Linked DNA regions of Homo sapiens. The gene in region 1 interacts genetically with each later gene. Each region holds a gene or a part of one and is shown in the gene's direction. Other genes may lie near its edges.

What was found. Genes that interact genetically often act in the same process or in processes that back each other up.
Region 2: changes in NDUFA9 (region 1) and SKIC8 together harm fitness more than expected from each alone (negative genetic interaction), as found in Homo sapiens cells (one large-scale study listed by BioGRID).

What each region holds. Positions count from the first base shown.
Region 1 is NC_000012.12:4,690,614-4,694,113, forward strand, and holds part of NDUFA9 (NADH dehydrogenase [ubiquinone] 1 alpha subcomplex subunit 9, mitochondrial precursor), read left to right. Parts: 3' UTR 1-3,500. UniProt on the Homo sapiens protein: Accessory subunit of the mitochondrial membrane respiratory chain NADH dehydrogenase (Complex I), that is believed not to be involved in catalysis. Required for proper complex I assembly.
Region 2 is NC_000015.10:78,289,610-78,293,109, reverse strand, and holds part of SKIC8 (superkiller complex protein 8), read left to right. Parts: intron 1-321; coding exon 322-494; intron 495-3,010; coding exon 3,011-3,159; intron 3,160-3,397; coding exon 3,398-3,491; intron 3,492-3,500. UniProt on the Homo sapiens protein: Component of the PAF1 complex (PAF1C) which has multiple functions during transcription by RNA polymerase II and is implicated in regulation of development and maintenance of embryonic stem cell pluripotency.

The sequences.
Region 1 (3,500 bases):
GCAGGAGAATCACTGAAACCTGGGAGGCAGAGGTTGCAGTGAGCTGAGATCACACCACTGCACTCCAGCCTGGGAGACAGAGGGAGACTCTGTCTAAAATAAATAATAATAATAATAATAATAAAGGTACATGATGGAAGCATATATGGGAATATATGCAAAGATCTCTGAGAAGATAAAGAAAGGTCTCTGGAAGGATTAGCAAAAACTCCATAGAAAACGGATTTTTAAAGCTGCATCTTGATGTTAACCTGCTGAAATGTGTGTGTTGGACCGGGGTGAGGAGGAAGCAGTCATTCATGCTGTGGAAGAGAACAGCATGAGCAATTGCAGTGGGGCATGAATGAGTGGGTGGTTATGAGTGGGAGGCAGAGTCCGTGAGTTGGGAGGGGCACAAGCGAGTTTAACCTTTACCTTGGAGGTGATGCAGAGCAGTTGAGTTCCATACAGATTTGGCTTCGAATATGAGTTCCACTACTTCTTAGTTGTGAGATTGGACAAGTCACTTGACCTCTCTTTGTCAGCCTCAGTTTTCTTGTTTATAAAATGGGGGTGATAGTAATAACTACATGATGGGATAGTGATGAGGAATTAAATGAGATCATGCATGTAAAATGCTGAGCCCTGCACATAATAAGAACTAAGTAAATGTGAGCCATTATCATTTAAGTAGGGAATATCATGCCCATCTGAGTCCATACATTTGTTTCCTGACTTAATAAAATAGCTGCCGTTCCTGAGAAGGAGGGATTCCTATTTCCCAAATGCTGGAAACAGGGACTTATAGAAGGTAAATTGCCCCATTAGTAAGTAGCTGAATTGGTTTTCCAACCTGGATCTTTCTGGCTACAAAACTGATGCCTTGTTCCAGAAAGGATTTAAGGATGCTCAGGAGGAAGACATTCCCAGAGTTACACTCTAGAAGGTCTTGGAGTGAATGGGAGGTATAGTGGAATGGAGGGCGTATTTGAAGAAACCCTTCCTGTGAAGGAAAATCCAAGAGAATGAAGTAAGGAGAGACTTAAACTTGAAAAGATTCTTGTGAGAGAAGGAAAGGGGCTATTTACAATAGAGAAGAGACTAGAAGAAAGTCTGAACTCACCTCCCTGGAAGCAGAGGGTGGTGGGGTTTTTGAGGGCTGTGTGAGAGTGTAGAAGTACTGAGAACAAGAAGCCATGTGGATCCTGTGAGGGCCAGGATGGGGGGGGGGGTCATGGGTCATCTGTGTTTGCTGATTGGCTTTATCCAAAGGAAGAGTAAACATCTCATCCTTATGACAGGAAGTAGTCCTGCAGCTTGGAGCAAGGTGCCCACCAAAGTTAGGCACATCCCACAGCAAGTGGGAGAAAGGAGTGCTATCTCCTTTTGAGGTTACATTTCAGAGAATGGTTCCCCTGGGTCCTTGAGAAAGACAGTCCTGGGTTGTAAAACTGGCAAGAGGCTGAGGGAAGATGTATGTCTCAAAGGGGAACTCAAATAATTTATAATTTTAAGTTTTCTGATGCTCTAAGGGAAGTCAGGTGCCTAATATTGGTGATGTGGTTTGGATGTCCCCACCCAAATCTCATGTTGCAATGTAATCTCCAGTGTTGGAGTTGGGGCCTAGTGGGAGGCGATTAGATCATGGAGTAGATTTATCATGAATGATTTAGTACCATTCTCTTGGTACAATCCTCAAGATAGTGAGTTCTTACAAGATCTGGTCATTTAAAAGTGTGAGGCAACTCTCCTCACCCCTTGTTCCTACTCCTACCATGTGAGGTGCTTGCTCCCTTTTCACCTACTGCCATGACTGGAAGCTTCCTGAAGCCTCCCCAGAAGCAGATGCCTATGTGACGCTTCCTGTACAGCCTGCAGAACCATGAGCCAATTAAACCTCTTTTCTTTATACATTACCTAGACTCAGATATTTCTTTATAGCAATACAAGAATGGCCTAATCGTGTTAGGAAGAAGCCTGTCTGAAGTGCAGTCAGGCTGAGGGGAGCATGAAGGCCATCTTGATGGGGGAAATCTTTTAGTACCCTAATGCGAGCAGATGATGATGTTGTTGGCAGAGAGGGAGGGTATAACTTGTGGTGCCTAGCCCTAGAGGGAATGGAAGGGCCAGAATCCAGAGCATAGGTGGGATTGTGTGGGCTGACAAGTAATAGTATATGATAGCATAGTATATGATAGCAGTAGTATACGATAGCATGTGTGTGAGTCCATTTTGTATTGCCATAAAGGAGTACCTGAAGCTGGGTAATTAATAAAGAAAAGGGGTTTATTTGGCTCACTGTTCTGTAGGCTGTACAAGCATGGCACTAACATCTGCTTGGCATGAGCCACCACACCCGGCCAGAATTTTATTTTTAGTGACTAGGCTTTCCTTTAAAACCTCTGTACTAGGCCGGGTGCAGTGGCTCGCGCCTGTAATCCCAGCACTTTGGGAGGCTGAGGTGGGAGGATCACTTGAGCCCAGGAGTTTGAGACCAGCCTGGGCAACAGAGTGAAACCCCATCTCTTTAAAAAAATAAAGCACTTGAAGCAGAACTTTTTATCTGTCATAATCACTGCTATGTCCACAGCACCTAAAACAGTCCCAGACATCTGTTGAATAAATGAATGAATGAGGTGGGAAGTCTTTCTTTACACTTAGATGAAAACTCCATCGGACCCCAAATTGTTCTGGTCTTGTTCAGGTAATAATTTTAATTCTATAATAAAATCTCAAGTTATAATAGGCTCAATTTGATAATTAGGATGCCCAGTGTTGTGTAATAATTAAAGCGTTAAATTTCCTCTCTGCCCCACAGCTGGGATCCAAGAAGACCCTGTGGCTGGCTACTCTTCTGTATTTTCATTTATCTCCACCCCCAGTTTACCAGCAGTGGTTATCCTCTCTCCAAGACTGGGCCAGGGGTGAGAAGGGCAGTCTTACCAGGCAAGGGTCTTTGCTGACAGATGTCTGGGCCTTCTTGACAGCAGGTGTTTAAAGCTGAATCTGGTTCTACTTTCAGGAGAGTGATGGTTTGAGATGGTAACTGAAGTTGTAGAAGTAGATGTTGAGGATGAAGTATCATATTAATAAAACATTGCCCATTAACACCTTAGCACAAATTAAAACTAGCTATACCTCACTGATAAGGACCTGAATGGCTAAATAATGATGAATGATTTATGGATGTAGCGGGGAACTGGGTGGAAGCAGTAGTAAGAAATTTGAATTAAGGAATCGTAAGGGAATCGAGATTATCTAGTTTCCCCTCGACATTTTATAACTGAATAAACAATAAAAAACAAGAGAAGTGACAGCTTTATAGCATCTGATTGGGGAAAAACACATCTTTTCTGGGGCTAGACAGTCCATAAATAGGACTTGGAAATGGAAGTGTAGGGGGAGATCCCATTGTACTTCAGTGGAAAACTATGCATTGTCTGGAATCTAGACTCTGGACAAAGACCCTTCCTTCCTGGCTGTTTGATTTTGATTCTATGGGAGCTATCTTGCAACTCTGT
Region 2 (3,500 bases), on another chromosome or scaffold:
CTGAACTCTCCAGTTGCAGTCCGGGAAATACTTTTTTCTAGGCAAGAAAGCAATAGCAATATGGTGGTATAAAACAGCAGCTTATTTTTCCCACTTGTTTTCCTGTTACTCTGTATTAAAGCCCTAAAGTTAAAAAAAAAAAATCTTAAAGTCCTACATTTAAAACCTGGCAGCATTTGGTGTTCTGTAGCTCATTAACTCTTCTCTGATTCTGTATTTCATAGACCATTGGTATTGCATAGTCACAGGGACCCAGAATTTCAGATGCCAGGTAAAGTGTGTTCTTTGTGAAGAAATCCATTTCTCTGTCCCCTGTTGAAGGCGTGATGAGAGGCTGGACCTACAGTGGAGTCTGGAGGGACATCAGCTGGGAGTGGTGTCTGTGGACATCAGCCACACCCTGCCCATTGCTGCATCCAGCTCTCTTGATGCTCATATTCGTCTTTGGGACTTGGAAAATGGCAAACAGATAAAGTCCATAGATGCAGGACCTGGTAAGAGTTTTACTTGTAGGGGAGATAATAGAGGTTCATGATTTCTTTTCCAAAATCTTTAGGGATAGAATGTGTTTTACAGCTCAGAATTTTTTGGATTTGAGAGGGGTGATAATGTGTGCATGAACTGTATTTCACATAATACCCTCAGTGGGGCTGGAAACAGCACTGTAATGAAAGACTAATACCTCTGCAAGTAAACATGAATGTTTACACTAAGGGAGATAAATAAAGGCTATAAATAGCCTTATGTCAATTCAGGTTAGATTTTGCTGCCAAATGAATTTTGGTAGTAAACCTGTAGAAAAAGCTTGTAGTTTCCAGAGCTTTTTGGATTTCAAAACTGCTGGTTTGGCGTTGACCTGTATTTTGCATTTTCCAGAGGTTCTTTATTTGCCATATTCTGAACTGATTCATTCACTGCCTTACGGAAACCTAGAATGTAAAGCATGGGGTCCTTATAGATCTGTATCATGGTCATCTCTACTAATTTTGATTAAAGGGTGTGATTCTTGGTATGTGATACATATGAAACTTTTAAGAAACATCAATTTTTTTTGTTTTAAGTACTGTAGAACAGCATAATCTTGTCCATCAGCCTCAGTAAACATCATCTGAGATGACAGAAATTAATGATGTCATAGGCTGACTAATGTGGAGCAGCAGAGGACATTTCAGGATTCTTTTGAACTTCACATTTACTTATAAATGGCTGCACAACATTCCCCAGCAGAACCTGCTCTGCCAGAATGGGTGGTAACTGCTAGAGGGTGCAGATAGCCTGGCATTTCTCTGGCACACCCCTTTTTGGGTTGATGATAGAAGAGCTGCTTAGGTGTTCCATGAACACAGTTCCCTTGATTGGTGCCCTGGATGGATTCGCCTCCCGCCAGTTATGCTCAGTAGCCACTCTAGGCTGTTCCTGTATTGGAAAGAATGATGGTCCCAGAGTTTTTAAAGAGGCTGGGTTGTCTGGAAACTGAGTGCATTTTCCCTCAGAAGCAATATTTCTTGTCTGTAATTCTTACCACTGGAGCTCTTTTAAGAATATGCCTGCCCAGTCCATATTTTGGATCCACTGAATCATAGTGTTCAGAGTACGTGGGGTGGGATATGTATTTGGAAAAAGCTACCCAGACGCACCCTGACTCCCCTGATGGTTGTCTTTACATGTACCCTTACCCTGCTTACATTACTTACAGAGGACTTGGGTCCCCAAACTATCCTGCAAAGTCTATTAAGACTCCAATATATAAGCATGGTCTTAAGAAAAGAGGAAGAGACAGAACTGTTTCTACCTTTTCATCTTGGGCGCCTAAGCTTTCCCTGGGCTCATAATGCTGGTGTTATTCCATGCTGGTTGTAGCCCTGGGCACAAGGCAGCTGAAGAAATCAGTGCTGGATTGGTTCCAAGTAAAAGGATGGCGTATGTATCTAGCTCACTTTCTCTGATAAACAGTACCTTTTACTGGATATTCTCCAAGTGTGGCAAAGTTTTAAAGGTTACTGTTATGAAAGAAAAAGAAGAGGCCAGGTGTGGTGGCTCACACCTGTAATCCCAACACTTTGTGGGGCTGAGGCGGGTGGATTACTTGAGGTCAGGAATTCAAGATCAGCCTGACCAATATGGTGAAACCCTGTCTCTACTAAAAAATACAAAAAATTAGCTGGACATGGTTGTGTGCACCTGTAGTCCCAGCTACTCAGGAAGCTGAGGCAAGAGAATAGCTTGAACTCGAGATTATGCCACCGTACTCCAGCCTAGGTGACAGAGCAAGACTCAATCTCAAAAAAAAAAAGGAAGAATGGGGTCTGAGAGTTGGATTTATTTTCTTTTTGGATAGGACTCTGCATAAAACTAGACCAGGCCATTAAACAGCCAACAGTTATTTGGTCCAGTAACAAAAGCAAGCATTGCTATTGACAGCTAAAGAGCAGCTAAATTCATCTGAAGGTAAAACTCCTTGGATGAATTTGGGTCTAATGAATGTAGGGAAAATAGACACTTAGTTTCTACCTATCTTGAAAATATGCATGGAGAATCTGAACCACCACACAGGAAGAGAAAAAGAGAAGAGAGACAATCCCCAGTCGTGGAGAAGTAAGGAAGTAGGAGGAAGCGAAGACCATGAGTGTACCAGTCTTTGTGTGGACATATGTTTTCATTAGGAGTAGAATTGCTGAGTATCATGGTAAGTGTTTGTTTTCACTTAAGAAACTGTCAAACTGGTTTTCAAAGTGGCTGTGCCGTTTTACATTCCCACCAGTGTATGAAGGCTCTGGTTTCTCCACATCCTTGCTAACACTTGATATTGTCCTATTTTAATTAAAAATTTAAGAAACCCTTAAACTAAATTTAAACTTGATAAAGAATTAGCATCTTTACAACATAATTTTCTGAATCAGGACACTGCTACTCCGATTTAAAAAGATGTATCCTTTGGTAAAACTTTAGTTTTTAAAATTAAGGCCAAGTCTTTTCACACTGTATTTTTGTCCTTCTTTTTTCTGTTCAGTGGATGCCTGGACTTTGGCCTTTTCTCCTGATTCCCAGTATCTGGCCACAGGAACTCATGTCGGGAAAGTGAACATTTTTGGTGTGGAAAGTGGGAAAAAGGAATATTCTTTGGACACGAGAGGAAAATTCATTCTTAGTATTGCATATGTAAGGAAACATTGCTCTCTGTTCTCCTTCTGATTCTTTCAGTTTACCCTTCCAGCCTGTTGCAGTCCTTGCCACAGATTCTGTCTTGGTCTGGTCAGGCAGCTGCTGTCTCACTGGTGTGGTTTGCCAAGTAGCCAGTTAGACCTGTAGATAGCAGGAGGTTTGCTTGTGTTTGGTAGGGACAGCTTAACAACACGGAGTCTGAAAGTGCTAATTTCTCCATATGTTCTCTGAACAGAGTCCTGATGGGAAATACCTAGCCAGTGGAGCCATAGATGGAATCATCAATATTTTTGATATTGCAACTGGAAAACTTCTGCATACCCTGGAAGGTATATATC